2 separate regions of the Homo sapiens genome follow, and region 2 is linked to region 1. Evidence: fine-mapped expression QTL. A gene starts in region 1. The other region holds a variant in brackets. All regions are shown on one strand. Distances are from middle to middle.

What was found. PIP is the estimated chance that this variant, and not a neighbour inherited with it, causes the effect.
Region 2: its variant is fine-mapped to the expression of ABAT in testis (GTEx, PIP above 0.99).

The regions. Positions count from the first base shown.
Region 1 is chr16:8,671,465-8,676,838 of GRCh38, forward strand. ABAT (4-aminobutyrate aminotransferase) reads left to right here and starts at 3,153. Exons shown (of 16, transcript NM_020686.6): 1 at 3,153-3,247. RefSeq lists enhancers at 2,150-2,651, 2,652-3,151 and a silencer at 2,746-3,205.
Region 2 is chr16:8,716,221-8,721,594 of GRCh38, forward strand. All of the region lies in intron 1 of ABAT (4-aminobutyrate aminotransferase), which reads left to right. Among named protein-coding and RNA genes, the nearest start is that of ABAT, 44 kb to the left of the region's middle. RefSeq lists an enhancer at 3,883-4,383. The variant C/A (reference allele first, on the strand shown) is at 2,586.

The DNA of each region.
Region 1 (5,374 bases):
CAAATAAAGTAATATTAGAATAATCTATAATTTCAATACACAAAAATAACCATTCTCCTACTGAACACAGTTTTTCACTCAGCATTGCTAGCTAGCTATATCGGTGCCTTTTAATATGATAGCCACTAGCTACCTGTTACTGTTACACCTTAAATTAAAATTAGATACAGGCTGGGCGTGGTGGTTCACACCTGTAATCCCAGCACTTTGGGAGGCTGAGGCAGGCAGATCACTGGAGGCCAGGAGTTTGAGACCAGCCTGGCCAACATGACGAAACCCTGTCTCTACTAAAAATTAAAAAATTAAACAACGAGCCAGGCGTGGTGGAGCACGCTTGTAATCCCAACTACTCAGGAGGCTTAGGCAGGAGAACCGCTTGAACCTGGGAGGCAGAGGTTGCAGCGAGCTGAGATCACACCACTGCACTCCAGCCTGGGTGACAGAGCGAGACTCCGTCTCTAAAAAAATAAATAAATAGATACAATTAAAATACAGTTATTCGGTTAACTAGTCATTGCTTTTTCCAAAATTTTAAATTTATTTTTCCCTTTTCCTTTTTTTATTATTTCTTTCTTTCTTTTTTTTTTTTAAACATCTTGGATACCAAAATTAGTCATTTCAGGTGTTCAATACCTCCATGTGGCTAGTGGCTACCACACGGGACGGCACAGATATAGAGCATCATAGAAAGTTATATTACACAGCATTGATCTAGCTCTACCTGGTAGATTTAACAAAAAGTAAGATGTTTAACAAAAAGTAAGACAGTACCAAATATACTGTTTTTGCAAATAACTTAACATTTTGAGATTTGTTTTGTTTTGTTTTTGAGACAGGGTCTCACTCTGTCACCCAGCTGGAGTACAGTGGTGTAATCTTGGCCCACAGCAGCCTCAACCTCCCAGGCTCAAGGCTGCCTCAGTCTCCTGAGTAGCTGGGACTACATGCATGCGCCACATCGCCCGGATAATTTTTGTATTTTTTGTAGAGACAGGGTTTCACTATGTTACCCAGGCTGGTCTTGAACTCCTTGGCTCAAGCGATCCTCTTGCCTTGGCTTCCCAAAGTGCTGGAATTACAGGCGTGTCACCACACCCAGCCCCATTCAATATTTCATACCTATGTTTATTGTTCAATTTCATGCAACAATTTCCCTCTGAGTCCCTGCTGTTGTGCATTCAAGTTGTTCCCAGTTTTTCCCTGTGATAAACAAAATGGTAGTAAGCTACTTTATCATTAAATCTTTGTACCTTTAAATGTTTTCAGATAAGTTCATAGGGATTGGATTGCTAGATCAAAGGGTCAACTTACTTTTAAGATTTTTAAAATAGAAATACCCAATTTCCCTCCAGAAAGGCTGTGATCTTTCTACTGCCATCATCAATACATGAAACTCCTTGAAGTCTTTGCAAAGAATAGTAATTATAATAATAAAAACAAGGTCATTTTGGTAGGTAAACTCTTTCCCTCTTTTGGTTTTAACTTGCCTTTCCTTTTCAAAGTGTCATCTCCCATGTTTATTGGCCGTTGTATTTCTTTGGGCAGGTCAAGGGTAGTAAAGGGGATTATGTTCATGGCTTTGGTTTTAAGAAAAAATTGCTAGATTTTCAGCACAGGCCTCATCAAGTTCCTCAAGCAAGGTGACAATCACCCAGGCTAGAGTGCAGTGGTGCCATCTCACCTCAGTGCAACCACTGCCTCTCCATTCAAGCGATTCTCATGTCTCAGCCTCCCAGGTAGCTGGGATTACAGGCAGGTGCCACCATGCCAGGCTAATTTTTGTATTTTTAATAGAAAGGGGGTTTCCCCATGATGGCCAGGCTGGTCTCGAGCTCTGGGCATCAAGTGATCTGCCTGCCTCGGCCTCCCAAAGTGCTGGAATTACAGGCGTAAGCCACTGTGCCAGGCCTCAATTATTCTTATTTACTGCTCTGTGTGTGTGTGTGTGTGTGTGTGTGTGTGTGTGTGTGTGTGTTGGGGGGGAGGGTCCCCAGAGGTGACACTAGGAGGTGAATGATTTGTTTGGCAGCTTTCTATTTATCTATGTGTTTACTTTATCTTAATTCTTTAATTGCAAGGACTATAGCGCTTGTGTAATCAGAGATAGGGCAGCCTGGATTCCTGGACAGCAGGAGGAGAGACCTCAGGGTTCTACAAGACTCCACAGACCAAGTTATCAGTGATCAGGGTGAGTGGGGAGAACCAAGCTGAACTCTTTCTCTGCCTTTAAGGTCTGTACTCTCCATCCATCCATTCATTCATTATGAGGACTTGGTGATCGCCTGTTGTCTTGATGAGCAGTTCTTTGTGTCTTTGATTTTGTCACTGAAAGATTGCATCCTCTTTCCAAATACCTCTAGAAAGCTGTGGGGGGGCTATCCATCCGTCACACCTGAGTATTAATTATCTTCCACACAGCATTTTATACAACGGTAGAAAGGCACCTTCATCATATCTAGGGTCTCGTTTATACCCACGAAGGAGGTACAATCTCTGTTGTCCCAATTTCAGGAAATTGAGGATCAGGAGGCGCAGTGACCTGCTCCAGGTCATGCAGAAGGAACCACCTCTGACTCCCAGCGCCCTGTTTGTCTTCCGGAGCGCTGGGGCCAGGCGGAGGAAAGTAGCTGGGAGCAAGAAGGGCTGGCAGGGCCCTGAGCGCCGAGATGGGGAGTGAGGTGGGGAGGGCGGGATGCTCCTTCCCTTCTCCGCAAAGGAACCCCTTCTGATTCCGACTCTGGAGCTCCAGAGACCGGATCCGAGACGCGGGTGGAGGTGGAGTTACACTCGCCTGCAGCCCTGAGGGTGTAAATGGCCCATTAAGATCCAGGTTAAATCAACCTATGGAGCTGCCCCCCAGAGGGTCAGGGTCCCCACAACTTGACGGGGGTCCTCAGCCGTCTCCTCCCCAGTCCCAGGACTCCCTCCCAGCCCTCGCGGTCCCTCTGGTGGGTCCCGCCCCAGCCCCCGTCTCCCCCGCCCCCGGAGGCTGGACTCTGCCCCCGCCCCGCCTGCCACCTCCCTCCTGGGGGCGGTGGCCCGTGGCGGGCGCACCCATTGGCTGTGGCGAAAGCGAGGGCCGGGGCTGGCGGCGCTGATTGGCCGGGACGCTCGGCGGAGCCAGGGAGTCCGGCGAGTCGCTGGGGGAAGTCGAGCAGACACCCAGCGCTGCCGGAACTCGGGGCGCGCATCCCGCAAGTCGGAACCCGGCGGATCGGATCCCGCAGATCGGAGACGGGGCCTGGAGGTGAGCGCGAGGCGCCGGGTGGCTTGGGACGGGCCCTTCCGAGGGGAGCCGAGAGGAGGTCCTTCTGCCCTGCCCCCAGGAGCAAAACCTGGGCATCTTCTCCTGGAAACGGAGCCCTCATCTTCCCAAGACGCGGGGCCCTCCCCCGAAAAGACAGGGGCTCCCACCCCCCAGAGAGCAAAATACCTTCCTTTCTCCTTCAGAAATGGGCCCTTCCTCCTGGCTCCAGCTCTAGACAGAAGTCCTCTCCCTTTTACCGCTTGAAATAGAATGCGGCCCCAAAAAGTGGTCTCCAGGTCTCTAGAGCCCCCTCACCTCTTGGGAGACTGATGCCCCTTCCCCATCCTTAGAAAACTAAGTTTGGGTGTCTTCCTTCTCCCCTCTCTTTCGGAATAATGGGGGTCTTCTCAGCTTATAAATTACAGTGACCTCCCCCTCCATGACAAATGGAAGCTCTCCCCCCATCATAAGACAAGGAAATCCCGGAGCAGAGACTCTGCAAGTCACCCTCCCACCCCAGATACTGGGCTCTGGAGAGATAGATGATTCACCCTTAGCCCTGCCGGAGACCCCTCCCTACCCGTCAGAGAGGCAGGGTGGCCTCTGACACCACCACATTAAAGGCTTTTGGGGATTTCCCCTCTCCTCCCCAGTAAAGATGTAAAATGAGGGACCTTCATACTCAGGAGCAGGGCAAAGGTCTGGCCACCCCTCCAAGTCATCCACCTCCCTCCACTCCACCCAAGCCCTTTCACACAAACCCCATCCTAGTAACCCCCTGCACCATCCTCCCACCGCTCCCAATCCCATCCTTCTCCACCTCACCCCAACTCCACTCCCACACCTGGCTGCCCCACCTATTTCACATCCTCTCACCTTTCCTCACCCACCCTGGCCAAGGTAAGACTAGAGGGGGTTCAGCGAGATTTAGTAAGACTGGAGCTCTTAAAACTGGGATCTGGGGCCTAGAGGCCCTTCCAGGAGTCTTCAAACTCTGACAACAGAGATGGCCTCTGAGGCAGCAGGACCAGCAGAGACCACCCGCCACCTCTCCCCCGCTCCCTGCCCCAACACACGCACAAAGGCTGTGTTCAATGCATTCTCTCTTGCAGTCTGGGAGGACAGCTGGCCCTCTTCCAAGAGGGCCCGCATTTCCCCCCTAAAGTGTGCACCCCCGCAAGCGCCTGTGGACATTGCCTGGTGGAATTCCCTGGGCACTCAGCCAAGAGAAATGGGTGCTGCTGGGCCCATCCACTGGGGAGGAGACAGTGTTGGCTTTGCTGCTTTGATGAAGCTAGACTAAGGGACAGGATGTTGGTGACCTGGGGGTGGGGAGGGGGTGGGAAGAGCTCTTCTCTGGTGGGTCAGGTTGGGAGGCAGGAGAGAGGGAGGCAGTGAGTTGTGTCTTGCTCTTTGGAGCCTGTGTTGCGGCGTGGAGTCATAGAGAAATGTGTTTTCTCGAGGCCCAAAGAGGTTAGCCACGGGGAGAGGTAAATGGTCCAGTCTGGAGTCCTAAGACCTAAAAGGGCTTCTGCATTAAAGACGTGGCCCCTTCATTTGACAGTTAAACACACAGAGGCACAAAAGGGGAAGAGACTTGCTCAAGGTCACCCAGCCTGTGGGAGACAGCTGGCCCCAACCCCTCCAGGACCCTTAAGGTGCTAGGATCCCTGACACAAGCCCCAGTCCTCACATTTACAATGGGGACTTGGGGACTGCTGGGTCCCAAGTCCCCACTTGTCAGAGGAAGCGCCAAGGCTCTGCAAAGGTCATGAAGCCAGGAAGGGGCAGAGCTGGAACTCAATGCCATCCCCCAGCAGGCTGCCTCGTGGAATCCATTCCTGGGTGTCAGCGCATCCCTGCTTACCCCGTGCGATCTTTGTGTTGAGGCCATTGCCAAATCTAGGCTTGCCAAAATCCAAACTGACCCAGGATAGCTAATAAGATCAGTTGCAGCTAATGAGAATGAGATGCTGGAGTGGAGGCTACTGCAGGAACCTCACTTGCATAGCTGGGTTTGCTCCAAGAACTTTGGACAGGTCCTGAGGATGTCATATTCCTTCCCTCCAAGGTCCCCTCCCTCTTAGCCCCTGCCCACGCCCTCTGGCTTTGAGTTCCCTGCACATT
Region 2 (5,374 bases), 45 kb after region 1:
TAGTACTAAAGATACTACATGGCTGTGTGATGTCGGGCAAATCACTTAACCTCTCTGTGATCTGTTTCCTTTTTTCTTTTTTTTGCTACGAGTGGATAATTATAATATCAGAAGGTTGTTCTGATGGGTATTATGATATATAAAGAACTTAGAACAGGGTTTGGCCTAAAGTAAGCGCTGAGCAAGTGTCTGCTGTTGCTGCTGCTAATTGTATTTGTTGCTGCAGTCGTGATCCCAGCACCCTCACCTTGGCCAGTGATGGGGAAACCTGAAGGGTGTTTTTTCTTCTGTACCCAGGGCGTGCTTCATGGGTTTGTGATCTATATGGTCACACAGGGTCCCGTGTTCAGAAGATCCCCCCATGTCACTGACTTGCAATTCGTAACCATTTTCTCACAAGGGGCCTCGAATATTTATTTTATGCACTGGGTCCCACACATCATGTAGCCAGCCCTGTCTGCTCTCCCTTTTTATTGGATCCCGTTGAGAGCCTCTCCTAGACTAAACTACTTGTGCCTACGTCATTGCAGCAGACAGGCCCAGGCAGGCCGTGGCATTTCAGCAGGTCAGATTGTATGTTCCTGTGACCACACTCCAATTCTGATGCAATGCGTCAGCCCGCACAGGCCAGTACAGTAGCCGTTCATCACATCTGGTCATTGAGCATCTGAGACGTGGCTATTCTAAACTGTGATGTGCTGTGAGTGTGAAATTCACACCAGATTTTGAAGACTTAGCACACATCCGAAAAAGAAATGCAAAATATCTTATTAATAACTATATTGATGGCCGGGCACGGTAGCTCGCGTCTGTAATCCCAGCACTTTGGGAGGCCAAGGCGGGTGGATCACTTGAGGTCAGGAGTTTGAGACCAGCCTGACCAACATGGTGAAACTTTGTCTCTACTAAAAATACAAAAATTAGCCAGGAGTGATGGCACACACCTGTCATCCCAGCTACTCGGGAGGCTGAGGCAGGAGAATCGCTTGAACCTGGGAGGCGAAGGTTGCAGTGAGCCGAGATTGTGCCACTGCACTTCAGCCTGGGCAACAAGAGCAAAACTCCATCTCAAAAGTAATAATAATAACTATATTGATTATGTATCAAAATTATTACATTTTAGATACAATGGGTTAAATAAGATACATGAAAAAAATTGGTTTCAGCTGTTTTTGCTTTTTTCATATGGCTACCAGAAAATGTAAAATTACCTATGTGGTTTGCATTGAAAGCTTGTGTTATATTTCTTTTGGGCAGTACTGTCTTAGAGCATACTACCTGTGCCTTCATTGTGACTCCAAACCAAACCAGACCAGCAGGTGACAGTGCAGTGAATTGATTTCTAAGTTACATTAATACACACTGGCCCTGGTGCTGTAGCTTAGACCAGAGTCTCCCAATCAATCCATCAGGCACCTCTTTCTGTTCCTTCTTTTCTGTTCCTTTCTCTCTTAAGATAGTCCAAGACACTGATTTTTATACCCAGTGAGTTTGTCAAGTAGCCTAAAGATATTTTTGAGGCAACGTATTGGGTAAAAAGAAACTGAAGTTGGAATCAGAAGGACTAATTTAAGAATTAAATTAAAATCCCAAATCACCTCTTTTTTTTTTTCTTTTAGAGATGGGGTCTCGCTCTGTCACCCAGGCTGATCTCAATCTCCTGGGCTCAAGCGATCCTCTCACCTTGGCCTCCCAACATGCTGGGATTACACATCAGGTCCCAGGTCACCTCTTCTCCATGAGGTGAGCTTGGGCATGTTATTTCTCTGTGCAAGGAAACAGAACAGCACTAGCTTTAAAGCCTCACAGACCCGAGTTTGAAGACTGGCTCTGCCGTTGACAAGCTGTGTGACACAGGATAAGCCACAACCCTCTCTGAACCTCAGTCTCATCCTCAGTCTCATAGCGCTGATGATGCATACTGTGTAATACTGTTGCAAGAATGGAATAAGATGAAGCAGAACAAATGTCCAACCCAGCAACTGGCACATGGCAGGTGTGCGCTTAATCCCTGCATTCTTAGTGGGATCAGTATTCCCAAGAGAGTGAACATTTATGGGAAAGAAAAGAAATCTTACTCTTTATGAATAAAGTACAGATATAAAATACAATACATAAGCAGATGTACAATTTATCTGTGGAATTAAAATTTCATGGGGTATGTAGCTAATAAAGAATCTTTAGGGGAATGGCAATGAAAAAAAGTTTGAGAAACATTGCATTAATCTGACGGATGGGACTCAGAGGTTGCTTTTCAGTTCAGTTCCTGTAGTTGTCAGAGTATAGGGCTGAAACTCCATGATTGAATTCAACAAGTGTTTTTGAGCACCTACAATAGCCAGACACCGTTCTGGACCCTGGAAATGGAGGGCACCCTCCAGGTACATGCTTCCCAGAGCTGGTCTCTGAGGTCCCCTGAGCCAGCCCCTGCCTCTGGGAAGATGACCCCTAAATGGCAGCCTCAGTCAGGGGGCAGGGTTTTAGAGAACAACAGGAATAGAAGTATTTGCCTCCCAGGAGTAGATAAGACGGTGTATGTGAAACCTTGACACGATTGGCATTCATTCGTAAAATCAGAGCAGATA[C/A]CTGCACACACAGGCATAAATGAAAGATACTTTGAATTACAGAAAAGTTAAGGTCTTTGCAAGTGCATGTAGGAATGCTGCCAGGCACACAGCGTGACTCCAGCCACCAACAAAGTGTTTCCAAGTCTGGAGCTGTGTGGTCCTTGAAGGAAATATAAATGTTTCACTTGTTATACGCTGTGATTTTTGCGTACTTAGCGGTTTCTGGAGTCCGTGAAAGTGGTTTGTTTTCTCTGAACGGGAAGTGCGTTTCCTCCAATCACACCGACCTGATTTGTTTGTTGCTTGTTGGGCCTCCCCACGGGAACACGAGATCCCACAGAACACAGCAGGACGTGTCCTTGTTTACTGAGGAATCTCTGGGGCTCGGCACAGGTGTGCAGAAAGCATTTATTGAACTGAACAAACAGATTTTACAAGCCGGACCTTCTGTGGCGTTGGCCCGGGTAGCTACTTCAGCATGGGTCCAAGCATCCTTTCTAAGCCAATTCCATTCTTTCACTCCTCCTCCCTTGTAGGATCAGAAATCCAAAGCTAGCTTATCCTTTTGCAGATGTTTCTTTCCATATTATTTCCTACCTCCAGAACAAAGGCTATCTGTGTCTCACATTCGGAGGCTTGGATGTGAAGCCCTGTCTGTTCATTTTTCTCTCCAGTTTTTTCACAGGCTGGGTAACTACCTGCCTGCTAGCAACGATGTGTTCGTTCTCCCTGGATTCCTGATTGAGGTGGGCAGAGAGGACTCTGAGACAGGAGCATGAGGATGAGGCAGATCAGCTTCTTTCTCATGAAATCTGGATGTTGAGGCTGGTAGCAGGACCACCGCATGTGCCAATAGTCTTTAGCAGCTCATCAGGCCATAGAAGAAGTGCCTTTACTAACTTCAAGTCCAGCCTGGGAAACGTAGTGAGACCTTGTCTCTCCCTGTCTAAAAAAAGAAGAAGAAAGAAGGAGGAGGAGGAGGAGAAGGAGAAGGAAAAAAAGAAGTTGTTCACAATTTTTGTTTACTCGTTTACTTATTTTTGAGATGGAGTTTCACTCTTGTCGCCAGGTTGGAGAGCAGTGGCACGACCTCTACTCACTGCAACATTCGGTTCTCAGGTTTAAGCAATTCTCCTGCCTCAGCCTCCCAAGTAGCTGGAACTACAGGCACCTGCCACCACGCCCAGCTGATTTCTGTATTTTTTTGTAGAGTTGGGACTTCACCATTTTAGCCAGGCTGGTCTCGAACTTTTGACCTCAGGTGATCTGCCTGCCTCGGCCTCCCAAAGTGCTAGGATTACAGGCGTGAGCCATCGCGCCCAGCCAAAATGCACAATTTTAAAGAGCTCTTTGGAAACAGAAAATGGCCTGCAACAGGCATCTCTTCCACATCCTATGTACTTTCTTCAATTGACCCTAAGCCAGTTGAGTGCCTCCTGACCCCACAAATAGATTTCATTCTTCCCATTTTACAGATGCAGAAACTAAGGCACTGATGAGTTCAGCAACTTGCCTAGGTAATATATATGGCCCAGCCACACTTTAGACCCAATTTCTGGCTCTTGTTACTTTCCCCACATCATTCTCAGTCTTTCTTAGGAATGGACATTTGCCTGTTTCCAAGAACAGTATTTCTGTCTCCCTATACAAGTCACTGATAATTTTATGATGCCCAAGAGGCAGGTGATAGGAAGTCATGCCTGCAGGGAGAGAGGGCTGGGGCCCATGCGGAGGGGAAAGTCAGAAGAGGCTGTTGCAGCTGAAGTCGGAGGAGAAAAGTGGATGTGAGATAAAGCCTCTGTCCCTGTGCCACTGCCCCTGAATGGGGCCCTGTTAACCCCATCTGCACAGGCCCACGGCTCCGGCTTTATGGGTTGCTATGGCAACCCCTGGCCTTGACAACTGAAGTGCACTTGGCTGAGTGTGTCTTTGTGTCCCTTTGAGTCTGCAGAGAAGCCAGCAGCTGGGGCTGCAGACGGGAAAGGAATGTCCTCAGCGTCTGCCAGCACTTTTGTCTTGGTCCCAACGGCTGATAGGAAAATGAGAGGCAGGGTCTTTTCTAGAGAGATCTGGGGGGTCCATTTCTAGCCGATGATGCATGCAAAGAGTTCGTGTTCACAGGACCTGGGAAGCAGCGGAGTAGAAAGGTGAGTCAGACGCCATCTTCATAGGCTGCTTGTTGAGCATTTACTGTTTATTCAATGATTGTTTGCAGGCAGGCACTGCTCTGGGGCTGGGGAAACAGTAAGGACTTCTGCCAGCCCACAAAATAGTTCCAATTGCTATTACTCCCATTTTACAGATCAGGAAACTGAGGCACAGAGACGTTACTTAATGTGCCTGAGGTTATACGGCGGGTCAGTGAGAGGCCAGGGATGTCTAGTCTGGGGGTAAGATCATTTTGAAGGATGCAAGATTGGGGAGATGCAGGGAAGAAGCAGTTTCATATCCAGCACCTCACACTCTGCCTCCACAGGCTTTTTTCTCCCTGTATCCATGGGATGTTTGACCTCCAGTTCCAGGGATTTGAGGATCATGAAGTCCTGTGGTCATATGCAGGGCCCACCGTCCACTCTTTATGGTAATTAACAGTAGTTCTCAGCCTCCGAGCCTCCAGAGCTTCCCCCGGTGCCCAGGTCACACCTGTGAGACTCAGACCTACTTAGTCTGGGTGGGGCTTTGACACAAGTGTAAGCTTCTGGTGAGCGAGCGTCAGGTGCAGCCAACGCTAGAAATTTCTGGCTTTTGAGCTCTAAGACCTTGAACAAGCCTTTTAGGCTTCTGAACCGGTTTTATAACGCCAGCCA